7 separate regions of the Homo sapiens genome follow, and all the other regions are linked to region 1. Evidence: fine-mapped expression QTL. A gene starts in region 1. Each other region holds a variant in brackets. All regions are shown on one strand. Distances are between the middles of the regions. Region 1 holds the start of UVSSA (UV stimulated scaffold protein A). Region 2 overlaps UVSSA (UV stimulated scaffold protein A). Region 3 has its middle 16 kb from the start of NKX1-1. Region 4 overlaps UVSSA (UV stimulated scaffold protein A). Region 5 has its middle 120 kb from the start of FAM53A. Region 6 overlaps MAEA (macrophage erythroblast attacher, E3 ubiquitin ligase). Region 7 has its middle 8.8 kb from the start of MAEA.

The links.
Region 2: its variant is fine-mapped to the expression of UVSSA in thyroid (GTEx, PIP above 0.99). The same link has a PIP of 0.9 or more in testis.
Region 3: its variant is fine-mapped to the expression of UVSSA in transverse colon (GTEx, PIP above 0.99).
Region 4: its variant is fine-mapped to the expression of UVSSA in whole blood (TOPMed, PIP above 0.99).
Region 5: its variant is fine-mapped to the expression of UVSSA in substantia nigra (GTEx, PIP 0.98).
Region 6: its variant is fine-mapped to the expression of UVSSA in whole blood (TOPMed, PIP above 0.99).
Region 7: its variant is fine-mapped to the expression of UVSSA in whole blood (TOPMed, PIP above 0.99).

The regions. Positions count from the first base shown.
Region 1 is chr4:1,345,224-1,349,290 of GRCh38, forward strand. UVSSA (UV stimulated scaffold protein A) reads left to right here and starts at 1,985. Exons shown (of 14, transcript NM_020894.4): 1 at 1,985-2,537; 2 at 2,867-2,966. The coding sequence starts at 2,869. RefSeq lists enhancers at 1-225, 226-748, 2,594-2,673 and silencers at 1,044-1,133, 1,354-1,683, 1,924-2,363.
Region 2 is chr4:1,384,984-1,389,049 of GRCh38, forward strand. It overlaps UVSSA (UV stimulated scaffold protein A), which reads left to right. Exons shown (of 14, transcript NM_020894.4): 14 at 885-3,066. The coding sequence ends at 978. Among named protein-coding and RNA genes, the nearest start is that of NKX1-1, 19 kb to the right of the region's middle. The variant A/G (reference allele first, on the strand shown) is at 2,077.
Region 3 is chr4:1,420,586-1,424,659 of GRCh38, forward strand. No RefSeq gene overlaps it. Among named protein-coding and RNA genes, the nearest start is that of NKX1-1, 16 kb to the left of the region's middle. The variant G/A (reference allele first, on the strand shown) is at 2,441.
Region 4 is chr4:1,377,040-1,381,039 of GRCh38, forward strand. UVSSA (UV stimulated scaffold protein A) reads left to right here. Exons shown (of 14, transcript NM_020894.4): 11 at 3,008-3,191; 12 at 3,841-3,949. Among named protein-coding and RNA genes, the nearest start is that of NKX1-1, 27 kb to the right of the region's middle. The variant C/T (reference allele first, on the strand shown) is at 2,112.
Region 5 is chr4:1,566,425-1,570,498 of GRCh38, forward strand. No RefSeq gene overlaps it. Among named protein-coding and RNA genes, the nearest start is that of FAM53A, 120 kb to the right of the region's middle. RefSeq lists enhancers at 1-777, 778-1,596, 1,597-2,414. The variant T/G (reference allele first, on the strand shown) is at 1,992.
Region 6 is chr4:1,296,087-1,300,160 of GRCh38, forward strand. All of the region lies in intron 1 of MAEA (macrophage erythroblast attacher, E3 ubiquitin ligase), which reads left to right. Among named protein-coding and RNA genes, the nearest start is that of MAEA, 8.2 kb to the left of the region's middle. RefSeq lists an enhancer at 1,211-1,924. The variant G/A (reference allele first, on the strand shown) is at 1,680.
Region 7 is chr4:1,279,035-1,283,108 of GRCh38, forward strand. No RefSeq gene overlaps it. Among named protein-coding and RNA genes, the nearest start is that of MAEA, 8.8 kb to the right of the region's middle. The variant C/G (reference allele first, on the strand shown) is at 2,485.

The DNA.
Region 1 (4,067 bases):
ATCTGGATGTGTTCTGAAGGTAGGGCTGTCAGGATTTGCAAACCAAATGGGCATGGAGTGAGAGGAAGAGAGAAGCCCAAGTGAGTCAGATAATTGGTCCAAGCGAACAGAAGGATGCAGGGCAGGCCCAGGCACGGTGGCCCAGGCACGGTGGCTCACGCCTGTAATCCCAGCACTTTGGGAGGCCGAGGCGGGCGGATCACCTGAAGTCAGGAGTTCGAGACCAGCCTGACCAACATGGTGAAACCCCGTCTCTACTAAAAATTCAAAAATGAGCTGGGCGTGGTGGCGGGTGACTGTCATCCCAGCTACTCGGGAGGCTGAGGCAGGAGAATCGTTTGAACCCGGGAGGCGGAGGCTGCAGTGAACCGCGATCGTGCCACTGCACTCCAGCCTGGGTGACAAAGCGAGACTTTGTCTCAAAAAAAAAAAAAAAAAAAAAAAAAAAAAAGGCTGCAGGGCCATCAGCGGATACAGAGGGCAGTGGACGGGCAGCTTGGCTGTGCTGTTGAGCCTGAGGGCTGAGAGGACACCCCGGGGCAGTGTAAAGGAGACTGGACTTAGCAATTGGTAAGAAAAGTTGGATAAAGAGAGGGTTTTGTTAGTATGGGAGAAACGGCACCCTTTTATACTAATGAGAACTAGTAACAACAAAAAAAACCACGCTGTAGAAGACAGAGGGAAACTGCTGGATGGGTGCCTTGGAGGAAGCCACAGGCCGGGGATTGGATGCACAGGGCAAGGGGCGCTGAGGGAGGGTCTGGCTGCAGCTTGCTCAGTGAAGCAAGAGGCAGGGTGAGGAAGGGGTGAGGCGGAGGAGCGGCTCGGGGCTGGCTGCAAGCTAGGAGCTGGGAGCCACTGACGCCCAGGGACAGAAGCTGGTGCTGCAGAGAGGGGCGGCGCAGGGAGTCCCTCTTCTTTTCCTTTTTAAAATAATTGCTTTACTGAGATATAACTCACACATCCTGAAACCCACCCTGTAAAAACACGATTAACAGAGTTGTGAGCTACCACCACCGTAATGCAAGGGCACGCCCATCCCCCCGAAAAAGAAACCCCGGCCCGCCGCCGGCGGCCCCCGCCCTGCACCCAGCCCCGGGAGCCCAGTCGGGCGTCTGCTCTGCGTGGCCTGTGCCGGGCGCCCCGCGAGTGGGGTCCACACCACGCTCCTCCGAAGCCACGGTTTCCCAAGCGCGGTCTCCAGGTCCGTCCGTCCGCAGCCGACCTCGCACTCCCCTGCGTTCGAGGCTGCGGACTTCGGCGGCAGGACGGACGGCGCCTCTGCTTCTCATTCCGCCCAGGGCCAGCCCGGGCCCAGGGGTACCTGCTGTGCGTCTGGCGCCGAGGTGGGCCCCGAAGACCCCCAAGCCCGCCCAGGGATTCCCTTCCCGAGGCCGGAGCGGGGAGGCGCCGCGGGGTTCAGGGCGCCCTGCGCGGGGCGAGCTCGGGGGCGGGGGCCCGCGCCCGCCCGTCTGGGCGGTCCTCACCGGCCCTCTGCAGGTGAAGGGACCTGGCTGCGAGCCCGCGGGCGGGCGTGGCGTTGAGGCCCAGACCGGAACTTCCTTTCGGCCTCAGTTTCCCGGCCGGCCCCGCCCCCGGCGCCCGTACATGCGGCCCCTTTAAGGACTTTCTGCGCCCTCCCGCCTCTTTTTTCTCGTGCGTCCCCCTCCCCACCCCCGGCAGCCTGCCTCGCCCTCGCCGGGAGCGCGCCTACGTCACCGCGCAGACCTCGGCCGCGTCTTTGCGCCTGCGCCTCCTGGGCTGGGGTGAGCCATTGGCTGTCGAGCTCAGGGCACGTGCTAGGGGGCGGGGCCTTGACCGGAAAGGGTGGGGCAACGGCGAGAAAGGCCGCGTCGAGCGGTAGGTGCAGTCGTCGCTGTGGTGACCCCAGGTCCTGATGCGTCCGGCCCAGGGCCAGCCAATGGCGGTAGAGGTCTTGGGCACCTGACAAGAGGGGCGGTCCCCCCGCCGGAAGGGGCGGGGCGAGGCGAGCGGCCGCGTCAGCGGTAGGTGGGGCTGTGGTTACGCTGCCGGGCGGGGGTCGCGCCGGTTCGGTCCCCGGGGCTCTGCGGGCGCCGGGCAGAGACCTGCGGCCAGGGCGTGTCCCGTGTGCCCGAGAGCGCCGGCGGCGGGGCCGGAGGGCGGGCCCTGGGCCGAGTGACAGGCCGCAGCCCCCCGAGCACCGTCGAAGCCGGCGCGCCCGCCCGGTGCAGCCGCTGTGCGAGAGCGACCCCGCGGTCCAAGCCTCGCGTGGCCCTGCCGGGCCCCTTCTTTCCCCGAGTAGGGCGCAGCTTCCCAGCCTCCGCCCCGGCCTCGCCTGGCGCTTCCTTCCGGGTCCTTCGGCCTTTCCCTGGCGGTGCGGCAGGCCCTCGCCTCATCCCACCAGGCACGCCGCGGTGCTCGGCCCTGGGTATCCGGGCAGGCTGCCTCCGTTAGGGCCGCCCCTGCTCTCCGGACGCGACTTTTCATTGGTCTCAGAATTTCTTGGCTCCTCTTGGCCTCTGCAGCCTTGCTGGAGGCTGCCCTGCGGAATCTGAGTGAATAAGGGAAACAGCAACAGTCACGTTGGGGAAAAGCTGATTCGGACAGCGCCACTGGTTCCTTTAACGCACGACCCTCAATGCAGCGTCCCACACACGGGATTGTAGAGGTCCCGAGTTTAAGGTTCACTTTTAAAACTGCAATCACCGCCGTAAAGGCCTTGCTGGACACACATATTTCCCAGAGAGGCACCCACAGATGGACCCCAGCCTCAGGGTCCTCCCGGAGCTTTCGGTTTATAGTGGAACCCAGTAAACACGTTAATAACACCGAGAGCTATAAAATACAGATGGTGATATAGCATCTCTGCCTTACTTATTTCTAGATATGGATCAGAAACTTTCGAAGTTGGTAGAAGAGCTCACAACTTCAGGAGAACCCCGACTAAATCCTGAGAAAATGAAGGAACTGAAGAAAATTTGCAAGTATGTCTTAGGGTTCAGTAACAGTAACTGACTGGCCCACTGAGCCCAGGACACACACAGGGCCCTGCCCTCCTGCCCCCACCTGGGAGAGAACCACCCGAGGGACACACCCAGGACATTTTCTCGGGGCCCTGCAGTACCCGGCTCTGACGGGTGGTCATGTTCTGGGGTCGGGGCGTGTGGCGTTGGGGACCCCACTGCTCTGTGGTTGGTGCTTCTCTTCATTCCCATTTGTGTGGTCTGGAGCACATCCTGTAGGAGTTCTTGAGTGCACAAATGTGATTCAGAGAGAAACGTGCATCTTTTTCTTTGCTGCTGGACTTTTCGAAGGGAAAGAATAGAGCTTGCTGATGGGCGAGTTGGTCCATCGCCTTTAGGGTATGTCCACCTCTGTTCACTTCCTCCAAGGAAAACGCCGGAGGGGATCTCTGCCGTCACCCTCAGGCAGCCAGAGATTCATGGGGGAAGCAAAACTTCCCCTCGGAGGGTGGAGCATAAGTCGAGGACACTGATTATTCTGTATCCTGTGTTTGTAAAATGGCAGTTTATAGATTGTTTATACAGTGATGGAGTGTTGACATTTTGATAGAAAATTTCAGGTCAGGTTTTGTGGCCTGCGCCAGGAAATCGAATTCGCAATGGTTTATGTGGGGTCAGGAGCTGGGAATAGGAGCATTCAGGAGGGGCTGGGAGATGTCCCGAGCTCTAGGCCTTCCTTCCTTCCTGCAGCAGGAGGCACCCAGCTGAAACAGTGTGCGTGCTGGGCGGTGTGCGTTGTGCCAGGCGGTGTGTGTTTGTGCCGGGCGGTGTGCGTTGTGCCGGGCGGTGTGCGGTTTGTGCCAGGCGGTGTGTGTTTGTGCCGGGCGGTTGGCGTTTGTGCCGGGCGGTGGGCGTTTGTGCCGGGCGGTGTGTGTTGCGCTAGGTAACGTGTGTTTAAAGAGCCAGATGGTTTGTGTTTCAGGCTTTGCTGTAATGCCTCAGTTGTGAACACAGCTGTAGATGATGTAGGTGGATAGATGGGCGACGTTCCAATGACACTTTGTGAATGAACACCGACATTTGAAGTGTATATGATTTTCACATTTCACCAAGTATTTTTTG
Region 2 (4,066 bases), 40 kb after region 1:
GCCACCCAAGGCACCTTAGCCCTTGGAGCTCAGGGTGAGGCTGTTTTCCCGTGGATCAGCCAGGGGCAGAGGCCAGCCTTGGTGCTGATGCCCAGGAGGAGGAATGGCCAGTGGGCCCATGCCAGGCCTCCTCCCTGTGTCTCATGGGGACACTGAAGCCCATGGCAGGAGCTGGCTCTTCGCCACAGCTGTGTGGCCCAGACCCCTCCCTACAGAAAGGATCTGGGGTGACCACAGGCAAAACCCTGCCTCGAGGGGCCCCCACAGCAGCGCCTGGCAGCCCCACAGGGGCCGCAGCTGAGCGGCAGCTTCACCACATTGTGGCCTCAGGCCCTGCTGGCTCCACAGCTCCACACCCTCGTGGGTCGCAGCAGCTGAGCTGGTCAGCACAGCACACCTCATCCTGCTCCCCGGAATGCCTGCCTGGCCCGTGCCCCCCCTGCTGCAGCCCTCCAGGTTTCCAGCCCTGGCCGTGGAGCCGTGCGTGCAGCAGCGGGCAGGGCTGTCCTGACGCCTCCTGGCTGCATCTCCTGCGAGGCCGCTCCCCGGGAGGCCAAGGGGGAGGCTGCCCTCATCCTGGAGTGCGGGAGGCCACGGGAGAAGTGCCAAGGTGGGGCTGGGGCCACCTTCACCGCGCAGAACCACCCGCCGCAGACTCCGCTTCTGGGACCTGGGGCGGCCCTTTCTAAGCCTGTCTGTCTCGGGCCAGGGCCAAGGGGCCCGTCGCCCATCTGTCTCTGAAGGTGGCACCCACAGGCAGTCTGTCAGTGTCCGAGGGCAGCAGTTGCCCCAGGACCAGTGCCTAACTTTGGTGATGCCGCCACTGGGAGCCCAGGCCCCTGGCGGAAGCCTCCCAGGTCACATCTTGCCTTGTTTCCCCACAGGGCAGCTGTGCGGAGGGTAGTGGCAGCCATGAACCGGATGGACCAGAAGAAGCACGAGAAGTTTTCAAACCAGTTTAACTACGCACTGAACTAGAGAGCGGGGCCCAGTGCACTGGCCATCAGCACTTTCTCCCTCTGCCAGTGTCTCAGGACAGCAGAGTGGGCGTGGGTCTGGGCAGTAACCATGCTTTGTCTATTACTGTGTTTGATGTAAAGAAATGGTGTGTTGCAATGCCCTGAAGGTACGGCCGCTCTGCTGCTACAGGGTTCGGCATCGTCTGGTGATGGGTCTGGCCTCGCAGAAGAGGCCCTCGGGCCTGGAGATGTGAACACAGGCAGCGACCCTGTTCCAGAGGGCTTCTGCGAGTCCTCGTGAGACCAGTGCTTGTCGTGGTGTGGGGTTCAGCACGGACGGAATGTGTGTGCAGCTCAGCCTTCAGAGCGTGCATTCCCCAGCCAGGAGGCGACCACTCAGAGGAACTCTGGGAAACCCACTTTTGTGCAAATGCTGTTTTTAACACAAACACAAAGGCTAGTGAACCGTTCAGTCATCTGCTTTCTGTTTCTGGATGTGCCTTTTCATACATGTGTCCTCTTGTCCCTGGCTTCTTACACTTGGCGTTGTTTTTAAGGTTTATCCATGCAGTTCCCCTCCAATGTATAAAACAAAGGAGGTGAAAACCTGTCCATGCGGAAGCTTGTGCACCCATGTTCACAGCAGCATTGGAGAAGGATACCGAACATCTTCTCGTGGGCTTACTGGCCATTTGTGTATCTCCTTTGGAGAGGAGTCTATTCAAACCTCTTGCCTATTTTTAATTGAATGATTTATCTTGAGTTGTAACAGTTGTTTTTTTTGTTTTTCCTTTTAGAGATGGGCTTTTGCTCTTACCCAGGCTGAGTGCAGTGGCAGAATCATAGCTCAGTGCAGCCTCAAACTCCTGGGCTCAAGCCATCCTTCCACGTCAGCCTCCCAGGTAGCTGGGACTACAGGCACACACCACAACACCTGGCTAATTTTTTAAATTTTTTGTAGAGATGAGGTCTCACTGTGTTGCCCACGGTGATCTCGAACTCCTAGCCTCAAGCGATCCTCCTGCTTCGGTCTCCCAAAGTGTTGGGATTACAGGCATGAGCCACCACTCCTGGCCAGGAGTTTATATGTATACTGTGGATACTAGATCCTCATGTG[A/G]TTTGCAAAAACTTTATTTATTTATTTATTTATTTTTGAAATGGAATCTTGCTCTGTCGCCAGGCTGGAGTGCAATGGCGTGATCTCGGCTCACTGCAACTACCACCTCCTGGGTTCAAGCGATTCGCCTGCGTCAGCGTCCTGAGTAGCTGGGACTACAGGCGCGCACCACCACGCCCAGCTAATTTTTGTATTTTTAGTAGAGACGGGATTTCACTGTGTTGGCTGGGATGGTCTTGATCTCTTGACCTCGTGATCCACCCACCTCGGCCTCCCATAGTGCTGGGATTACAGGTGTGAGCCACCGCACTCAGCTGATTTGCAAAAACTTTCTTCCATACTGTTGTTTCACTTTCTGGATAGTGTCCTCTGAAGCACAAAAGTTAATTTTGATGAAGTACAGCAATTTATCTGTTTTTTTCTTTTGTTGCTTATGCTTTTGCTGTCACATTTCAGAAGCCATCACCTAATCCAAGATCACAGAGATTTACACCTAGTTTCTAATAAGCATTTTATAATTTCAGCTCTTATGTGTAGATCTTTGATCCATTGTGAATTAAGTTTTGTGTGTGGTGTAAGAGCCCACATTCTTTTGCATGTGGATATCCAGTTGTCCCAGCACCATTTGTTGAAAACATTATTTTTCCCCATTGAATTATCTTCGCACCATTATTGATAATCAGTTGACCAAAAATGTACAGGCTTATTTCTGGGCACTTGACTCTATTCCATTGACCTGTTTAACCTTATGCCAGTGCCACAGTGCCTTGATCAGTGCTGCTTTGTTGTGAGAAGTTTTACTTTGTTCTGCTTCAAGGCTGTTTTGACTCTTCTGCATCTCTTGCATTTCCAAATGAATTTTAGGATCCACTCATCAGTTTCTTCAAAAAAAAAAAAAAAGCAGCTGAGATTTTTGATAGGAATTACATTAAATCTAGAGATTGCTTTGGAATGTATTACCGTCTTAATATTAAATCTTCTGAGTCATGAGCTTCTGATTATCTTTCCATTTATTTGGGTCTTTTTAAATTTATTTCAACAGTATTTTGTAGTTTTCAGTATATAAGTTTCTCACTTATTTTGTTAAATTTACTCATATTTTATTATTTTTGATTTATAACCAAAAGGACTATAAATGCAATTATAAATTATTAAAAGATTATAAATTGCATTTACAAAAGCAATCACAAATGTAATTGTTTTCCAAATTTCACTTTGGGGCTGATCATTGCTAATATGTGGAAGTACAACTGACTTTTGTGTATTGATCTTGTATCCAGCATTCCTTGCTGAACTTGTTTATTCATTCTAATTAGTTGTATGTTCCCTAAGATTTTCCATACACAAAATCATGTCATCTGCAAACAGCTTTCTTTCTAATCTGGATTTCTTTTATTTCTCTTACCTAATTGCTCTGGCTAGTACCTCCAGGACAATGTTGAATAGATGTGGTGAGAACAGACATCCTCGTCTTACTCTTGATCTTAGCGGGAAGCTTTCGGTCTCTCACCATTGAATGTGATGCTAACAATGCAGTTTTGTGTAGATGCTTCTATCAGGTTGAAAAAGTTACCTTCTCCTCCTAGTTTGTTGAGTGTTTTTGTCATAAAGTATTGAATTTTGTCAGATGCTTTTTCTCCATCTGTCGAGATGATAGTATGATTCTTGTCCTTTATTATAGTGATACAGTATATTACATTGTTTCTCATATATTGAACCGACCTTGCATTCATGGGGCAAATTCTACTTGTTCATGGTGTATAATCCTTTTTCTATGCTGCTGGCTTTGGTTTGCTAGGATTTTGCATCTGTATTCATGAGGGATATTGGGCTGTAGTCTTTTTGTGATGTCTTTAGCTTTAGTCACGTCACTACTGACCTCATAGATTGAGGTGGGAAGTGTTCCCTCCCCTCCTATTTTTTGGAAGAGTTTGTGAAAGATTGTTGTTAATTATTTAAACATTTGGTGGAATTTACCAGTGAAGGCTGG
Region 3 (4,074 bases), 75 kb after region 1:
CACTCAGATGCAACATCTGTCAACATTTTGGTGTCAATATGGTTTTGTGTATCCAAAGCCACACCTTTATTCTGGAATCTTAAAATATACCTTCAGACATTAAGTTGCTTCACCTGTAAATATTTCAGGCAAGAAAAAGAAATAAAATGTAAACATATTGAAACAGAAAAAATAAAACTAGCCCTGCATACAGACGACATGATTATCTACGTAGAAAATCCCAAGGAAAAAGCACCCAGAATTCATAAGTCAGCAAGGTCAGAGAAAAAGCCTGAAAAAGGTCAATCTAATTTCTATATACCCACGATCAGTGATTAAATCCTAAAAATTCAAAAACATTTTATAATAGCTCCAGGTTAAGGAAGTTCCTTCCTATTCTTAATTTTCTGAGAAATTTGTAAAATCATTAACAGATGTTGCATTTTATCACATTTTTTTTCCGTATCCATAGGCTCATATGGCTTCTCTCGTTGCGTCTGTTGACATGGTGGATTGTGATGGCTGGCGTTCTCTGTTGAACAGCCTTGTGTTCTCAGGGTAAACCCCACTTGGCCATCATGTGCTCATGCTTTCCATGTTTCTGGATTTGATCGCTAGTGTTTTGTTGAAGATTTCCACATCTATGTGCCTGAGAGGTTTTGTCCTGTAGTTTCTTTTCTTGTGATGACTTTGGTGTTGGTATTAGGGGAATTCTGGCCCTGCGAAATGAGTTGAAAGTGTCACTTCCAGCCGGGCATGGTGGCACATGCCTGTAATCCCAGCACTTTGGGAGGCTGAGGCGAGTGGATCACGAGGCCAGGAGATCGAAACCATCCTGGCTAACATGGTGAAACCCCGTCTCTACTAAAAATACAGAAAATTAGCCGGGCATGATGGCGGGCGCCTGTAGTCCCAGCTAGTCGGGAGGCTGAGGCAGGAGAATGGCCTGAACCTGGGAGGTGGAGCTTGCAGTGAGCCGAGATCGCGCCACTGCACTCCAGCCTGGGCGACAGAGCAAGACTCCAACTCAAAAAAAAGAGAAAAAAATAAAATAAAATAGAAAGTGTCACTTCCACCTCTATTTTTTGATTAAGTTTTGTATAGAATTGGAGTTATTTTTATGTTTAAATATTTCGTAAGATTCACCAGTGAATTTATCTGGACCTGGAGTTTTCTTTTTTGGGAGGTTATTAACTATGGATTCAACTGCTTTAGTGGAGATAGGGCTGTTCAGGTTATTAGTTCTTCTTGAGTGAGTCTTGGTAGTTTGTGGATTTCCAATTGGTCCAGTCATCTGAGGTGCTGAATCCGTGCATGGAATGCTCCTTTGTTATCCTTACAATGCCTGTGGGCTCTGCAGTGACAGCCCCTCTGTTATGCCTGTAATGGGTCACTTGTATCTTCTCTTTCTTTATCAGTTTTACCTATTTTTATTGACTTTTCCAAAGAACCAGCTTCTGATTCCATTGATTTTATCTAATATTTTTGTTTCTATTTTTCTTAACATTTTATTTACTTATGTTTTTTGAGATGGAGTCTCGCTCTGTCACCCAGGCTGGAGTGTAGTGGCGCCATCTCAGCTCACTGCCTCTGTCTCCCAGGTTCAAGTGATTCTTCTGCCTCAGACCCCCAAGTAGCTGGGATTACAGGCATGTGTCACCACACCTGGCTAACTTTTGTATTTTTAATAGAGACGGGGTTTCTGCATGTTGGCCAGGCTAATCTCAAACTCCTGACCTCAAGTGATCCGCCCACCTCAGCCTCCCAAAGTGCTGGGATTACAGGCATGAGCCACTGCACCTGGTTATCTGTTTTTAATTCCACTGACGTCGGTTTTATCTTTACTATTCTTTCCTCTGATTGCTTTGGTTTTCTTTGGCTCTTGTTTGTCTAGTTACCTAAATTAGAAGCTTAGGTTGTCAATGAGATGTTCTAATATAAGCATTTATTGCTAAAAATTTCCCTCTAAGAGCTGCTCTAACTGCATACCAAAAATTTTGATATTTTAAATTTTCATTTGTATTTAGTCCAGAATGCTTTCTAATTTCTTCTAGGAGAACTTCTTTGATCCATGGATTACTTACAAGTGTAATTGTTAATTTCTCAGCCTCTGGGGTTTTAAAGGTATCTTTAGGTCATTCATTTCCAGTTTAAACCCACTATTGTCAAAGAACATGCTTTACATAATTTTAATTCTTCTAAATCTGTTAGTTTTGTTTTATAAGCCAGGATATGGTTTCTCTGGAGAGTTCCATGTGTACATGACAAGAACGTGTGTCCTGCTGCTGTTGGATGGCAGATGCTGTAAATGTCATTTAGAAATTGTTGGCTGATGGTATTGTTCTCCTGTATCCTCCCTCCTTATCTACCTAATTGTTCTGTTGATACTGAGAGGACTGTTGAGGCCCCAGCTAGAGTTGTGAGTCTGTTACTTTTCCTTTCAGTTAAAGGTCTGTTATGA[G/A]GGCAATACACGTTTAGGTTTTTATGTCTTCTTGGTGAATTGACCCTTTTGTCATTATGTAATGTCTGTTTACCCCTAATAATTTTTCTCGTTCTGAAGTTGACTTTATCAGATATTGTAGCCATTCCAGCTTTCTTTTGATGAACATTTCCCTGGTATATCTCTTTTATCCTTTAACTTTTAATTTACAAATATAGTCATATATAAAGTGGGTTCTGTGTAGCCAGCATGTAGTGGGATGGATATTTTTTAAAATTCACTGTAACAATCTCTGCCTTTTAATTGGGTATGTTTAGATTACTGACATTTAACATAACTGTGTTTGAGTTTAATTTTGTGGGTACAGAGTATGTGTGTATATTTATGGGGTACATGAGATACTTTGATACAGGCGCGCAAAGCATAAAAATCACATCATGGAGAATGGGACATCCGTCCCCTCAAGCATTTATCCTTTGTGTTACAAACAATCCGATTATACTCTTTTAGGTATCTTTATTTTATTTATTTATTTTTTTTGAGGCAGAGTCTCACTGTCGCCCGGGCTGGAGTGCAGTGGCGCGATCTCGGCTCACTGCAAGCTCCACCCCCTGGGGTTCATGCCATTCTCCTGCCTCAGCCTCCCGAGTAGCTGGGACTACAGGCGCCCGCCACCACGCCCGGCTAATTTTTTGTATTTTTAGTAGAGACGGGGCTTCACCGTGTTAGCCAGGATGGTCACGATCTCCTGACCTCGTGATCCACCCGCCTCGGCCTCCCAAAGTGCTGGGATTACAGGCGTGAGCCACCGCGCCCGGCCTCTTTTAGGTATCTTTAAATGTACAATTAAATTGTTATTAACTACAGTGACCCTGTTGTGCTATCAAATACTAGGTCTTATTCATTCTTTCTACCTGCCCTTTGTGCCCATTAGCCGTACTCCCACCCCCACCACCCTTCCAGCCTCTGGGAACCATCCTTCTACTCTCTCTGAGTCCAGTTGTTTTCATTGTTATCTCCCACAAATAAGTAAGAACAAGCAAAATTTGTCTTTCTATGCCTGGCTTATTTCACTTAACACAATGACCTCCAGTTCCATCCATGTTGTTGCAAATGACAGGATCTCATTCTTTTTTTTTTTTTTTTTTTTGAGATGGAGTCTCTCTTTGTCACCGAGGCTGGAGTGTAATGGTACAATCTCAGCTCGCTGCAACCTCTGCCACCTGGTTCAAGCCATTTTCCTGTCTCAGCCTCCTGAGTAGCTGGGACTACAGGCGTGCACCACCACGCCTTGCTAATTTTTGTATTTTTAGTAGAGACGGGGTTTCACTATGTTGGCCAGGCTGGTCTCAAACTCCTGACCTCAGGTGATCTCCCCACCTCAGCTGCCCAAATTGCAGGGATTACAGGCATGAGCCATGGCGCCTGGCCATGGATCTCATTCTTTTTTATGACAGAATTGTGTGTAAGTACCACGTTTTCTTTATCCATTCATCTCCTGGTGGACACTTAGGATGCTTCCAAATCTTTCTGTTGTGAACAGTACTGGAACAAGCATGGAAGGGCAGGTATCTCTTCGGTAACCTGATTTCCTTTCTTTGGGGTGTGTCCTCAGCAGTGGGATTGGTGAGTCGTATGGTAGCTCTCTTTTTAGT
Region 4 (4,000 bases), 32 kb after region 1:
CCGTAACCACTAAAGCCAATGCTGCGGGGTCTGCGGGGCGTGATGCGGGAGCGTCTCATCCGTGTGAGGGGCTGATGTCAGAACCTCCAGAGAGCGGGGGGGCAGGGGAGCCGGGCAAGGGTCCTGGGGCAGCTTCAGGGCCTGAGGAGCACCGTGTGCCCAGGGCAGCCACTGCCTCTGTGTCTGGATGCCCAGGAACGGGCCCCGAGTGCCGGGACGTCCTGGCACATTGTCCACAGCTGCCTGTGTTCCCGGGGTTCTGCTGGGCTCACACACGACACACGAGAGCAGGATGGTAAGCGAGGCAGGCCCTGGTCTCACTCACAGCAGGACTGAGATTTGAGGGCCCCGTCCTCAGGGCTCCACAGACACCGCCCCTAGTGGGGGCCAGATTAGGGACAGTGTGAGGAGGGAGGGGCTGGGCAGGCTGCTCAGCGGCCGGAGAGGTCGGGAAGAAACAGCTGTCCCTGTCACACATTGCCACCAGGGGTGCCCCAAGGCCAGTGCTTGGTTTCTGAGCCTGGGAGGTGACGCCCAGCAAAGCTCCCACCGAGAAGCGGATGCCCGTCCCTCCTCCCACCTGCCTGGCCCGTCCCCAGGACCACAGGCTTTGCCCTGAGCCCCCAGGCAGTTGGGCTGAGAGAGAGGCCTGAGCAGCTGCTGGTGAGGACCCGGTTAGTCCTGGATGGCACCGGGGCCCTGCTGGGCAGGCCTGGCTTCACGTTCCACCTGCCTGGCCCGTCAGCACCACGCACCTGGTGCATCGAGCTCACGGCTTCATGTTTCCCCCAACTGCCTGCACACTGCTGTGGTCGGCTTGATGGAGTTGCAGCCTACACATGGCAGCGGCCCGGGCTGGGGAAGGGCCCCATGTCAGCTGCGTGGATGGGGGTACATGGGCTGGTGCAGGAGATGGCACCTGGGTGCCACATGTGCCCCACAGCCAGTTGAGGGCCACACTCCTCCTGGCTGGCCCCTAGCCAGGATGGCAGGGGCTGCTCACCCCACATTCCCTCACCAAGTGGAGGGGTCCTGCCCTCTGGCTCTCAGCCACATTTAGGGATCTCGGAGAGCCTGGGCTCGCCCCTTTCATCCAGGAGGTCAAGATGATGCGGGTCCGGGAAGCCAGGGCCTGGCCAGGCCGTGGTGGGAGACAGGGCTGATGGGGGTGGCGGCCACAGGCAACCACTAGAACAAAGCCGTCCTGGTACACAGAGGGCTGGCGGGCCCTGGCTGGGTACAGTGGCTCACGCCTGTAATCCCAGCACTTTGGGAGGCCAAGGCAGGTGGATCACTTGAGGCCAGGAGTTCGAGACCAGCCTGGCCAACATGACAAAACCCCATCACTACTAAAAATATAAAAATTAGCCGGGCGTGGTGGCGTGCGCCTGTAATCCCAGCTACTCGAGACTGAGGCGGGAGAATCGCTTGAACCCAGGAGGCGGAGTTTGCAGTGAGCTGAGATCGCACCATCACACTCCAGCCTGGGCAACAGAGCAAGAGTCTGTCTGAAAAAAAAATAGCCAGTGGTCCTCGGCCGAGGGGAGTAGAGGGAAGCATCCCTGCACCTGGACGGGGAGGAAGCGGTGGAGCCCGTGGTGTGGCTGCTGTGCGCCGGCTCCTGAGTGTTCTCACTGCGATCCACGGGGCGTCTCTGGTCCGAGTTCCGGGTGGCAGAATGCATCGCTGCTTCTCCCACGGGGCCTTGGGTGCAGCAGGAAGCATTTGGCCGGGCGGTCAGGCACCCTCGGGGGAGCCGCATGTACCTCCTTGACTGCGGGGCACATGGCCAGGTGCTCTTCAGCCCACCAGGGCTTTGCCCGAGACGCCTCTGCCTGTAGTGGGGCCAAGGCCCTGGGCAGCACATTCTGCCTGCGTTCCCACCCACTGCCTTATCCCAAACCAGCCTCATCCCAGACCAAGGTGGATGCAGAAATGAGGTCCAGGCGGCCCCAGGGCAGGGCCTACTGCTGGTCCCTTCTCCCTAGCGTGGGCCGTGCCTGGGGCTGTGCTCCTGTCTGTGGACCTGGGGTGAGGGCGGGGCTGCTGGGCTCTGCTCCTCCAGCATCCTCAGGCACAGGGTGTGGGAGCCCGGGAGCTTCGGGCAGAGC[C/T]GACCGTTCCCCAGTCAGCAGGCAATGAGCAGCCTCTCATCACTGGGAGCCCTTGGCACTGCCCATCTGTCCTCCCCAGCTCCTGCTGGCCCCAACTGTGGCTGTGTGTCCTAGAAGGAGGCCTGGTGGCAGCACAGGGGCAGTCTGGTCTGTGTGAGGGCCCCTCAGACACTTCTCCCCTGCCTGGGCATCCAGGTGGGCAGGGGGTGGAGTCCTCTGAGGCCGGCCTCCTCTTGGCCGGCACACCCAGCCCCCCCATCCCATGGCATCCGCCGGAAAGCGTCCCTAACCAGGTTGATGACAACAGCAGAGCGTGGGAGCGGACGCACCTGGGACGCCTGGGAGACCTGGGACGCCTGGGGCAGTGGAGTCTGGTCTCCAGCACCCGGCCCCTCTGTGCTGCCAAGGGCTGAACGGCCTTCACTCCTTCTCCTGGGTGTGCTACCGCCCTGTCCTTACGTCCCTGCAGTGGAAGGACGACCTTCATGTGGATGCCCCGTTGGCCTTCAAGGTCACGCCTCAAGGACGCAGCAGCTGTCGCCCTTGTCCTATAGGGAGAGCCCATCTTGCAGGTGGCAGTCGTGCCCGTGGTCGCGCGGCTGGTTCACGTGGCGTCAGAATTCAGACGCAGGCGGTCGTGCCCGTGGTCGCGCGGCTGGTTCACGTGGCATCAGAATTCAGACGCAGGCGGTCGTGCCCGTGGTCGCGCGGCTGGTTCATGTGGCGTCAGAATTCAGACCCAGCCGGGAGTGACCGTGTTCTCCCTGGGTGCTGTCCACAGTGTTGGGGTGGCTGGGCTGCAGTGGTGTTTGGCCTTCCCCTGTGCCTGCACCACCGTGGCCACGCTCTTCTGGGGTCCCTGCAGATGCTATGAGGGCCTCTGGCTGTGTCTGCAGGTCTGACTCCCAGCACCGCTTCTGGAAGCCCAGCGAGGTGGAGGAGGAAGTGGTCAATGCCGACATCTCCGAGATGCTCCGGAGCCGCCACATCACTTTTGCCGGGAAGTTTGAGCCTGTGCAGCACTGGTGCCGTGCCCCGAGGCCAGACGGCCGGCTCTGTGAGCGCCAAGACCGGCTGAAGGTGAGGCCGTGGCCCGAGGGCGGGGGTGGGTGTGGGCTGGACCAGGTGGGGCAGCCAGAGGGGTGCTGAGCCCCACCTGCCCCTGCCCTGGGTCAGGGTGCTTGTGAGCACTGAGAAGCCCATGGAAGGGGCTTATCCGTGGTGGGCAGAAATTGCTTAGCCGTTGGCCATCAGAGCATGGTGTCTGGGGCTCCTGCCCACGGCCCTGAAGCCTGACACCTGGGTACATGGCTTGGGGACTCTCCAGGGGCCAAGACACACAGTATCCTCCATGGTTGCAGCCCGGGTCTGTGCTGGGCCTGGGATCCTCAAAAGTGAGGAGAGGCCAGGGGGCCAGGGCAGCTCCCAGCCGGGCAGCTGGGCATGGTGCAGGGGGGTCGCTATGGCCATGCTGGATGAGGGAGGCCTAGACTTTCCACAGCTGCCCAAGACCTTCCGGCTCCAGAGGAGGGACGGAGCCATCCCCACGTCCCTGTGGCTCTCAGGACGCCCTCCTCTGAGGGGCGCGTGATTCCAGGTTGTGTACACTTTGGCTCTGTGATACCACCCACCCTGGTCGCTGTTTGTGCCCAAGTCGTGGTGGTGGGGGGAGGTGGTCAAGGCAAGCGGACCCCTCCCCGCCATCAGCCACCGTGTCCTCGCTGTGCAGTGCCCTTTCCATGGGAAGATTGTTCCACGGGACGACGAAGGACGGCCGCTCGACCCGGAAGACAGGGCTCGTGAGCAGCGGCGGCAGCTGCAGAAGCAGGAGCGCCCGGGTAGGTCTGGGCAAGGCGGTCACCGTGGGAGGCACAGCCTGGGACTCACTG
Region 5 (4,074 bases), 220 kb after region 1:
GCAAGGCTCCCACCAACAGCATTCCCGGTGGACTGGGCTCTGGGTGGGGCGGGGCTCCAGGTGGGCGGGAATATGGCTGGAGTCACAGGTGGGTGTGGTTCCAGGTGGGTGGGGCTCGGGTGGGTGTGGCTTTGGCGGGAGTCACAGGTTGGGTGTAGCTCCAGGTGAGCGGGAATATGGGTTGAGTCACAGGTGGGTGTGGTTCTGGGTGGGTGTGGCTCCGGGTGGGTGTGGCTTCAGGTGGGTGTGGCTTTGGCGGGAGTCACAGGTTGGGTGTAGCTCCAGGTGAGCGGGAATATGGGTTGAGTCACAGGTGGGTGTGGTTCTGGGTGGGTGTGGCTCCGGGTGGGTGTGGCTTCAGGTGGGTGTGGCTTTGGCGGGAGTCACAGGTTGGGTGTAGCTCCAGGTGAGCGGGGCTCCCTTTGGGTGGAGTCACAGAGGGGGGCTCCTGGGGAGGTCCAGCCCCAGGTCTCTCTTCTTCTCCACAGGGAAGGCCTGTAAGTCAGCCCCTCCCTTGTGACCCTCCTGGAGCAGGGGCTGGGCCAGGGGGTCCCCCCACCCCCGTCAGGTCAGGCACCCACTGCCCTTCCACATCAGCTGCAGCCTCGGCTCTCTCGCCTCTCCTCCTGACCCTTGAGTCATCGGGGCCTCCCTGTCCTTGGTGCCGCTCAGGCTCTACCTTCACTCCGCTGCAGTCCCAGGCTTCACAGCATCCCACCCTGCGGGCTCAGATCTGCAGATGTGTGCAGCCCTTTCCCCAGCACCCTGCCAGAGCCCAGACCCTCCCAGGGCAGCTGGAGGAGCAGGGCTGGTGGTACCCGGTACTGGTGGAGGGCAGACCAGTGGAGGGAGAGAGGGAGGGGGCAAGGTCCAGGACCGGCGGGCGGGTGCTGGCTTTGCAGCATGAAGGACCTGGGGCTGCGTGAGGCCCACCCACTCCTCGCTGCGCAGGGCGGGGAGCAGCCTCGCCTCCTGCCGGAAGAGAGGCCCCATCCTCTGAGCTCCCCTCCCACCCCCTGCAGCAGCCCTGTCCCCCGCCATCCCCCACCAGGGACTTTCAGGACCTCTGCCCCCTCCTCCGGCCCAGAAGCTGGCCATGGCCCCACAACCCAGGCTGAAGGGGTGGCCCTGGCCACGCCCCCTGTGCCCAGCAGAGTCCTGGGATCTCCTCTCTCCTCAGCACCTGCTCCCCCTTTGCTGAGACCACACACCCAGCCAGATTTGGGGGGCTGGAGAAACCCCTAATCATGACTTGGGCTCGGGGTCCCTCCTCGGCCTGAGGCCACATCGTTAAAACACCTGGGGCCAGGACAGCCCGAAAGGCCCCCAAGGACCTACCAGGAGCAGCCCCAGCCCAGGGCCCCCGGCCCCTCCAGCCTCCCCTCCACACATGGGTGGAAGGTGCAAGGGGATGGGGGACACAGCCGTCCACACGTGCGACCAGGGGAAGGGCTGGGCAGCACGCCCCGCCCTTCCACAGCTTGGACCCGCCCAGCATCATGGGATCAACCTTGACCCCAGCTCGGCCCCAGTGTGTTAGGCCAGACCGGCTGTGGAGGTGCAGGCAGGGCCGGCAGGGACGGGGTTAAGAGCACGGCGCCTCCCAGGCCTCCCTCCTCGTTCCCTTTGAAATGGCTCCCTGGTTCCAGAATGACTCCGGCTTCCCCTCTTAATCTGTATTTTACGAGTGAGAAGGTTTGCATTATGCAAATCGTTAGATAGGAACAGGTGACATTTCAGCAAAGAACACGGCAGGCGGCGGCCTGCGGCTGCTGATTTAGACATTAGTATTTGTCACCAGGGCGGCGGGGGCGGAGGAGAACTCGGCCACGGAGGGCTCCTCACACCTTAAGGTGGAAGTCTCCCAGCCGGGGCAGGCCGGGCCCGCACACCCTGAGGCCTCCCAGCGACCAGCACACCACCCGCGGGAGCTCCCTTCTGTGCACCAGGCTCCGGCCCAGCAGCACCTCCTGGAGCTCACGCCGCCACGG[T/G]GCAGGGCAAGCACAGGCCCATTTTACAGATGAGGAAGCCGAGGCCCGGCGAGGTGATGGGCGGGCTGGGTCTCAGCTGGAGAATGGGGCAGGGTCCAAGCCAGCCAGGGATGTCCCCACAGCGAGTGTCCGGAGGGCCCACTCCCCACGACTGCACAGTTCATTCTGCGGGTCCTTCCTCCAGCAGCGCCCCCATCCCAACTCCACCCTCTCCCATGCAGCCCACAGACAGCCTGGGGCGGCCCGCCCACCCCACCCCACCCGCGCCGCCTCCCACCCACCCCACCCGCGCCGCCTCCCACCCACCCCACCCGCACCGCCTCCCACCCCACCCCACCCGCGCCACCTCCCACCCCACTCCACCCGCGCCGCCTCCCACCCGCGCCGCCTCCGACCCGCAGCCCCGCGGCGCTCTCCTGGGCAGGCTCTGCGGCACCATCCATCATCCACTGTCAGAAGCATCCGCGTCCATTTCCCGGGAAGTTGTTTGAGGGGAAATGGACGAAAGAGAAGGGAGCGGCCACGCACTTCCCAGGGCGCCCCGCGAGCCCTTCAATTTTCCAGCTGCCTGACAACGCCCACGGCGCACCCAGCTCTGAGGGGCATGAGAAACGCCAGGCCCTCGGGTCCTCCAGAGGCTGGGAGAGCCGTGGAGCCACCGGGGCAGGCTTTCCCAGGAGCCCCATGGGGGCTGTGGGCCGCAGCACGCAGCCGGAACATGGACGGCAGTCCCGGGCAGACCCTCCCGGCACAGGCCCGGCAAGCTGCTGTCCCGGCTTCGAGGTCTCTGGTAGGCTGAGCTGGTTGGTCCTGGGGCTCCTGTGTGGCCGTGGGTCTGTAGGCAGCCAAGGGCAGTATGTCCTGGGGAGCCTGCAGGGCACCGGGCAGGGCCCAGCTCCCCACAGCCCGCCTGGTCTCTCCGGCCTCTGGCTCTGAGTCTGCAGGATGTGGAGTGGGCTGCAGCAGGCTGCTCTCTGTGCTTCTGAGAGGCTGGGCAGCCCTCTGGGGAGCTCAGGGGAGTTTGGGGTGCCGTGGTCCAGGACGACCTGGATGACCTTGGATGACCTCGAAGGCCTTTTGGCTCAGACGACCCTGGATCCCAGGGGTGTGTGGGCAAAGGCAAGAGAAGGCCCATGAAGAGAGGCTGGGCCTGTTGTGCAAGGAGAGCAAGGCCAGAACCAGCGGCAGGGCCAGACGGCAGCACTGAGCACTCCGCCTGTGCAGGGTGACCCCTCTTGCCCTGTCCTTGCCTGTGGGGGAGGAAGGGTGGGGCAGCAGAATACCGAGGTGGGAGCCCTTTGTGGAGCCGAAACCATGGCAGCCGGGAGGCCAGATTCACCCACCCCAAGGACCCCCAGACCCCCGGCTTCATACAGCAGCGCAATGGCATTAGTAACACGCTTTTCTTGGGGAGACTTTGGGGCAGAAATGAAGTTGCAGGCAACATGCCATGGGGGAGGCAGAACCCTGGACACAGCCCAGCTCCAGGGCGTTGTCTGGGGCTCACGCCACCTCTGAGACACCCGCGTAGGGGGCGCATGGCTGGCTTGTGGCTGGCAGATGCCGGTAGATGCACCTGGCTGAGGAATCCGCTCAGATCCTCAGCAGATCTGCCTGGTGCTCACAACCCCACTCCAGGGGCTCCTGACACTGAGAGGCGGGGATGTTAGCTCCTGGCTTATCTAGCGGGGTTCCTTAGGCCACAGAACTTTGGGTTCTGGACACCTGTGGGGCTGTGAGGGGGGTTGACCCTGGGTAGGAAGAGGGTGCAAGGGCACGGAATTCCTAACTCACGCCTGGAAGTGTGCGGACAGTGTTTAGCCAGAGGGGTGGCTCAGTCCTCAGACATCACACAGAGTGGGTCATTCAGCCACTCAACAAACACAGGGATCCAGAGGGGACAAAGGAAGTGGCCCGGCCAGGGTGGGCTGAGCACCCTCCATGTGCCTGGCATTGGGCTCGGTGCCGGCCGTGCAGTGAAGGCCAGGGCCCTGTGCCTAGCAACAGAGCAGCTGGGTCCTCGTCTGGCACCCCCACGAGGTGGCTTATCCATCTACACGGGTTGGCTCTGACACCATCCACG
Region 6 (4,074 bases), 49 kb before region 1:
ACCTTCACGTGCGCCCCCCACCTACATCTGCACCTCACCTATGCTACCCTCACCTGTGCCCCCCCACCCGCACCTGTGCCCCCCTCACCCACGTCTGCACTGCCCTCACCTGTGCTGCCCTCACCTGTGCCCCCCACCTGTGCCTGTGCCCCCCTCACCTGCTCCTCCCTCACCTGCTCCTCCCTCACCTGCTCCTGCACCACCTTCACGTGCGCCCCCCACCTACATCTGCACCTCACCTATGCTACCCTCACCTGTGCCCCCCCACCCGCACCTGTGCCCCCCTCACCTGTGCCTGTGCAGCCGTCACCCATGCCATTCCTCACCTGTACCCCTCACCCATGCCTGTGCCGTTCCTCACCCGTGCCTGTGCCCCCCTCACCCGTGCCTGTGCCTCCCTCACTTGCGCTGTGCCCCCCTCACCTGTGCTGTGCCCTTTGCCTTGTGGCTGCTCCTGCACTTGGTTCTCTCTCTGTTGGTCGGTTTTCCCATTGGCTGTGCAGCTCCCTGGTGTGCACGTGGCTCTGAGTCTTCCTCTCGTGAAAACCCCTTCCTTGCCCCCGTCCTCCTCCAGCTACTACTCCCTGTCTCTGCCCCTTCATGTCTCTCTTCCTGTTTTACCTAAATCAGATTTTTGCCCCCCAACACTCCACCCAGATGTTCCTCTTGAGGACAGGATGATGCTCCTGAAAGCGGTCAGTCCACAGCGGACCCCACTGCCTCGAGACGCTCCCATCACTCGGCTCCCGTGACACCATCCTCTGGGCTCTCCCCACCCCTCGCTGCATGTCCTCACTTGCCTATGCTGTCTTCTCTAGTCTTGGAGGCCTTTTGTTTTATGTCACCAGCCAGCCCTCCAGAGGTTGTGTGGCTTCACAGACGGTCTCCAAGCTCCTGTCCCCACACTGCTGCCCTCCCCAGGCCTCTCTCCCTGAGGCCATCCCGTGTAGTCACCTCCCGGAGCTCTCTTCGCATGTCTGGAAGGCAGTTCAAAGATACGATACCAGGCGCAAAACCAAATGCCGCATCTCGGCCTTGGGGCCCCAGACGAGCCCCAGACCTGCCTTACTAAGCCACCCTTCCCAAGTCAGTTGACAGCGATGTCCCCCGGCACTTGTTCAGTGACAGCCGAGAACTCGGAGGTTTTCTCGATTTCTGTTTCTCACGTTTATCCTTGAGTCCACGATGGCTGCTGGGGCTGCGGCCTTCGCGGCCAGGAGGAGGGTAAGGGGGAATCAGTGCCGCCCTGCGTGGCCAGCTCCCTGCGTGGGGGCCTTAGTGGACATCCTCCCAAGCGTTTACACTTCAGCTCATTCCCCAGAGCACGGGGCTGGCCATTTCTAGCTTTGGAGGAGCCTGAAAAAGTACGTGCGTATGTGTGTGTGTATACATACATATAGAGAGAGAGCACGCGCTTGAGTGTGGGCTCATTGCTGCCCTAAATAAAATTAGGATGTGGTTCCTTTTGCCCTTTGTCCCTTGCCTGCCTGGTTTCCTTTGCAGCACTCGTCACAGTCTGACGCGGTCGCCTGCATCTCTCTGTGCTTTGGTTGGGCGTCTCCTTTAGAGCGTCTGCTCTGCGAGGGCACGGGCCGTCCTTTGTCGTCGTTCACGTCACACCCACGAGTGCCTGGCACAGGAGTCAGTCAATGGCTGTTGGCCGAACCAATTTCTCCCCC[G/A]TCTGTCTGGGAAATTCCTAAACTTCGCATCTCACTTTTGTCCACTTGCCGCATTCTAGAGTATGTCTTGGTCTCATGGCCTGTGCTCTCATCTGGCTGTGGTCAGCCTCTTGCGTTTCCTTTCTCCCTTGCCTCCACCCCTCGCGATGTAGCCCCATCCCCTGCCCTTCTCTGCTTCCCATTGTTCTAGAACATTCCAGCATGGAAACCCCGCTGTGCAAGGCCCCTGCACTGGCCACAGAAGCCGCACCTATCTGCTGAGGAACCCGGTTGCTGCCTGGAGTGGGTGTCGAGTACTGCCTGGCAGCATAGCCATGCTTCTTGAGGCATTTTAGCACCCTGTACCCCAGGTACTGTTCCATATGCCCCTCCTTCTCCATGAGCCCCCCATGCCTGCCCCGTCCTTGTGCTCTGCCCGCGGCTTGGCCCTGTCTGTCGCCTGCCTGCTTGTGCTCACTGTTTCCTTTCTTTTACTGGAGATATGTCATTTGTGCCCCGCCCAAGGCCAGCCTTTGTTCATGCACCAGACCCCCTGCCCCATCCCTGTGACCTGAAGAGGCATGTGCCGTCTTCTGGTTATCCACGAAGAGGCACACGCGCCGTCTTCTGGTTATCCACGAAGAGGCACACGCGCCGTCTTCTGGTTATCCACGAAGAGGCACACGCGCCGTCTTCTGGTTAACTGTGTGCGGGACCCACAGGTCCCCTCTGTCTGAGCCAGCCCTGCCTTGGGGTCTCTGGAATTGCTTCTCATCTGGTTTTACCCCCATCACAGTGCTATAGTCAGGGCACCAGGTAACCCCAAGACACTGCTGAGACCCATGATGGATTCTTGCTGCCCATCTCGACCTCTCACAGGGCTGGAACACAGCTCACCCCCTCGGGCTCCTAGAGCGCCATCCTCGCGTTTCCCCCCGGGCTCAGTCCTTGGCCCTGGGTGTTGCTGTGAGCACCGCTGCCTTGGTGCTCTCACAGGGTCTAGTGGACTGATAGGACCCTCTGTGTATACTGATGACTCCCAGGCAGGTATCTTCCCAACCCCAGAGCCCTGTATCCAGTAGCCTGTAAAACATACCCACTTGGCAAGGCACTTTGGCATTAAAATTATTATTATTAAAATTATTATTATTTTTAGAGATGGGATCTCACTCTGGCACCCAGGCGGGAGTGCAGTGGCATGATCACAGCTCACTTCAGCCTTGACCTCCTGGGCTCAGGTGATCTTCCTGCCTCAGCCTCCCGGGTAACTGGGACCACGGGCGCCTGCTTCCGTGTCTGGCTAATTTTTTTATTTGTAGAGATAGGTTCTAGCTCCGTTGTCTAGGCTGGTCTCCATCTCTTGGGCTCAAGCATTCCTCCCTCCTGGGCGTCCAAAAGTGTTGGAATAACAGGTGTGAGCCACCATGCCCAGCTCCTTGGCATATTTAGATCTGAGCTTATCATCTTAACACCTGCTGCCCAAACCAATTCTACCAGTCTCCCTTCTCTTCGGGAAGGGCAGCCCCTCCATCTCCCTTGGTCAGGCCAGAACCTTCAGGTTGGCCTTGATGCCTCTGTTGTCACAGCTCATGCCCAGCCCGTCTGCCCCTCCACCCTGGCGTCAGGACATGCCCAGGCCCAGCTGCTGCTGCTCTTCCCACCTCTGCCCCTGCGGCTCAAGTCGCATCTCTCTCTGGAATATTGAATAGCCTTCTGGCTGCTCCTGCTCTGCTCATGCCCACCCCGGCTGCCCCAGCGCCAGATCCTGTCGTCTTTTTGTTCTAGGAGTTTCCTGACCTGGGGATGAAGGCCAGGGTCGTTACAGTGGCTCCCAGGCCCTTTGCCCTGTAGGGTGCTGGGCCCAGTGGCCTTTCTGCCGCCATTCAGCCAGGCCAGCATGCCGAGCCCAGGGTTTTACTGCCACCTTCCTCTGTCTGGAGCGCTCCTTCCACAGATGTCCATGGTCCCATGTCCTCACCTTCAATCTTTGCCAACGTCCGTGGTCCCATGTCCTCACCTCCTTCAATCTTCGCTGAGCTGTCAGCTTGTGAAGCTTCTCTGACTCCACTGTTGAAACTGCAGCCCCAGCATCTCCCACTTCTGCCCTTTTCCCTCGTGAGTCGTGACCGCTGTCTCACATAACGGTATTTTGCTTGTTTCTGACCACTGGGATTATAAGCTCTTTTGAAGGATAGAGAAGAAATAAATTCTCCAATTAACAAATGAACAAAATAATATTAAATATTATTTTGGCAATTCTGTCTAAAGCAGTAAGAATTGAAATAGAAGTAAATGTAACCATTGAGAAAGTCAGCACAATAACGGGGCATACAGTAAGTGCACGAAACCCAGTCGCCACCCTCTATATCACCGCCAGCCAGTTAGAACACATCCCATTCACCATAACCCAAAGCAG
Region 7 (4,074 bases), 66 kb before region 1:
TGCGTCCTCGCTCCTCCCTGGTCCTCTGCGTCCTCGCTCCTCCCTGGTCCTCTGCGTCCTCGCTCCTCCCTGGTCCTCTGCGTCCTCGCTCCTCCCTGGTCCTCTGCGTCCTCGCTCCTCCCTGGTCCTCTGCGTCCTCGCTCCTCCCTGGTCCTCTGCGTCCTCGCTCCTCCCTGGTCCTCTGCGTCCTCGCTCCTCCCTGGTCCTCTGCGTCCTCGCTCCTCCCTGGTCCTCTGCGTCCTCGCTCCTCCCTGGTCAAGGGCTGCATCCTTGCGTTCTGTGAGCTCTGCCCGTTGGGAGCATCCATGCTGATGTGCAGGGGCCGTGCAGCACTGCATTCTTCTTGCCTTCTCTGTTCTGTTTAGTACAACCACCCCAGCAGGTCTCCAGTTCCTGCCAGGTTAGTGTGGATGGCCCAGCACCATCTCCTCTCCATCTTGTTGGCTATCCTCTCTTGTTCCTCACAACCCCGCCAGGGTCGCGGCTCAGGAGCTCTGCCGTGTGAAGTGTGCTCAGCAGTTCTCCTCACATGTCTACGCAAAATCTCTGGCTCCCTGTGTGTCTGAGCCCAACAGACACACTGAGCACAGGAGTTGGCTCTCAGCTCCTCCCAGCTTGCCGTGACTGAGCCCTGCCGTCCTGTGGCACCGCCACGGAGACCACAGTGTCCAACTGTCCAACCTTTACGTAATTGGCATCCCAGGAGGAGAAGCAAGAGTGAATGGGGCAGGAAAAGATCATTAAAGAAATCGTGGCTGACATAAAAAAGGATGAGTTCATGTCCTTTGTAGGGACGCGTGGATGAAGCTGGAAACCATCATTCTGAGCAAACTATCGCAAGGACAGAAAACCAAACACCATGTGTTCTCACTCATAGGTGGGAATTGAACAATGAGATCACTTGGACACAGGGTGGGGAACATCACACACCGGGGCCTGTCGTGGGGTGAGGGGGATGGGGCAGGGATAGCATTAGGAGATATACCTAATGTAAATGACGAGTTAATGGGTGCAGCACACCAACATGGCACATGTATACATATGTAACAAACCTGCATGTTGTGCACATGTACCCCAGAACTTAAAGTATAATAAATTAAAATTAAAAAAAAGAAATCGTAACTGGAACTTTTCCCAATTTAATTCAAGAAACAAATCTGCAGATACGGCCGGGCAAGGCGGCTCACACCTCTAATCCCAGCACTTTGGGAGGCCAAAGCGGGTGGATCACTTGAGGTCAGGAGTTTGACACCAGCCTGATCAACATGGTGAAACCTTGTCTCTACTAAAAATACAAAAATTAGCCAGGTGTGGTGGTGCACATGGGTAGTGCCCTACGAACACAGAATTCTGAGGGGTCCACGAGGTGTGGAAGGGCAGCAAGGTTTCCAGTAAATACAAGTAAGGGTGTCACATCCAGGACGGAGTGAGCAGGGGCCCCAAAGCCCAGAGAGGCCATGCCTTCTGTTTGAACCAGAACATGCCATAAACACAGAAGAAACGGGAGTGCTAAGAAACACATACCCCATCATGTACTTCTTACGCATGGGACTTCCTCACATCAGAACTGCGTGTGCTTGCAATCCCAGCTACTCAGGAGGCTGAGACAGGAGAACTGCTTGAACCCAGGAGACAGAGTTTGCAGTGAGCAGAGATTGCACCACTGCACTCCAGCCTTGGCAAAAGTGCGAGACTCTGTCTCAAAAAAACCCCAAATCTTGCATATACAAGATGGTCAACGGTGAGAGACATCCCATCTGCACCTGTTCCCGGCACCCCAGCTGCATAGAGCATGGGTAGTTCCCCACGAACACAGAATTCTGAGGGGTCCATGAGGTGTGGAAGGACAGCAAGGTTTCCAGTGGGTGCAAGTGAGGGTGTCACATCCAGGACGGAGTGAGCAGTGGCCCCAAAGTCCAGAGAGGCCATGCCTTCTGTTTGAACCAGAACATGCTATAAACACAAAAGAAACAGGGGAGTGCCAAGAAACACATACCCCATCATGTACTTCTTACGCATGGGACTTCCTCACGTTAGAACTGCGTGTGCTGAACATGGTGGACAGGAGGAAAGATGAGGCAACCCACAGTTCCTTTTCCCTCCAGACACCCCTTACTTGTCAGTAAAAGTAGAGGGCATTGGTAAAATATGTGCACATCAGAAATGAAATCACAGCTGCATTAGCTTCATGCAGCACTCCATGAAGAAGAACAAAACAGGTCTGTGCAATCGAGCTGGGAAGCACAGGCCTCGTGAGTTTGGTGACGCAGAGTTCGAACTAAAGCACTTACGTTTGCATTTAAAACTGGCGTCAGACAAATGATGGTGAACACTATGATTTGCTTATGTTTGCACTTAAAACTGGCGTTGGACAGGCTGGGTGCGGTGGCTCGCGCCTGTAATCCCAGCACTTTGGGAGGCTGAGGCGGGCGGATCACAAGGTCAGGAGATCAAGACCATCCTGGCTAACACGGGTGAAACCCC[C/G]TCTCTACTAAAAATACAAAAATTAGCCGGGCATAGTTGGCGGGCGCCTGTAGTCCCAGCTACTCAGGAGGCTGAGGCAGAAGAATCGCCTGAACCCAGGAGGTGGAGGGTGCAGTGAGCCACGATTGCACCATTGCACTCCAGCCTGGGTGACAGAGCAAGACTCCGTCTCAAAAATAATAATAATAAATAAAAATAAAAATAAAAAATAAAACTAGCGTTAGGTGACGATGAACACTACAATTCGTGTGAATAACTGCTTATTTTTCTTTACTTAGAATGACATTAAATGATGAATTTTAAAAATGCCATGATGTGGGCCAGGCGCGGTGACTCACGCCTGTAATCCCAGCACTTTGGGAGGCTGAGGTGGGTGGATCACACGGTCAAGAGATTGAGACCATCCTGACCAACATGGTGAAACCCCATCTCTACTAAAAACAAAACAAAACAAAAAAACAAAAATTAGCCGGGTGTGGTGGTGGGCGCCTGTAATCCCAGCTACTCGGGAGGCTGAGGCAGGAGAATCACTTGAATCCGGGAGGCAGAGGTTGCCGTGAGCCGAGAGCACGCCACTGCACTCCAGCCTGGCGACAGAGTGAGACTCCAACTCAAAAAATAAATAAATAAGATAAAATAAAATAAAATAAATGCCATGATGCAGAGGCTGCAGTGAGCTGAGATTGTGCCACTGCACTCCAGCCTGGGCGACAGAGCAAGACTCCATCTCAAAAAAAACCCAAAAAAACCCACTATGATGGAAACAGTCAACAGAGGGTGGAGACGACCTGTTGAATGGGAGAAAATATTTGCAAACTATTCATCCAACAGGGGACTAAAATCCAGAGTATACAAGGAACTCAAGCAACAATAAAAAAAAAAATCCCACTAGAAAGTGGCCTGAGGGCACTTTTAGCCCCCAAAATAGAAATGTCTATTTTGGGAATAAACATATCTCAAAAGAAGACAGACAAACAGCCAACAGGTGTATGAAACAATGCTCAGCACCTCTAAGCATCGGGGAAGGGCAAGTCACCACCACGACGAGACGTCATCTTACCCCAGTTACACGGGCTCTTATTAGAGAGACAAAAAATAACAGATGCTGCTGAAGATGCTGAGGAAAGGGAGCTCTCACACACGGTGGGTGGGCGTGTACATTAGTGACGGCCGTACCGGTTAACAGTGAGAACGGTGGGTGGGCGTGTATTTTAGTGACGGCTGTACCGGTTAACAGTGGGAACGGTGGGTGGGCGTGTACATTAGTGATGGCCGTACAGGTTAACAGTGAGAATGGTGGGTGGGCGTGTACATTAGTGATGGCTGTACTGGTTAACTGTGGGAACGGTGGGTGGGTGTGTACAGTAGTGATGGCTGTACTGGTTAACCGTGGGAACAGCGGGTGGGCGTGTACATTAGTGACGGCCGTACCGGTTAACAGAACGGTGGTCGTGTACATTAGTGACGGCTGTACTGGTTAACTGTGGGAATGGTGGGTGGACATGTACAGTAGTGACGGCTGTACCAGTTAACAGAACGGTGGGCATGTACATTAGTGACAGCTGTACCGGTTAACAGTGAGAACAGTGA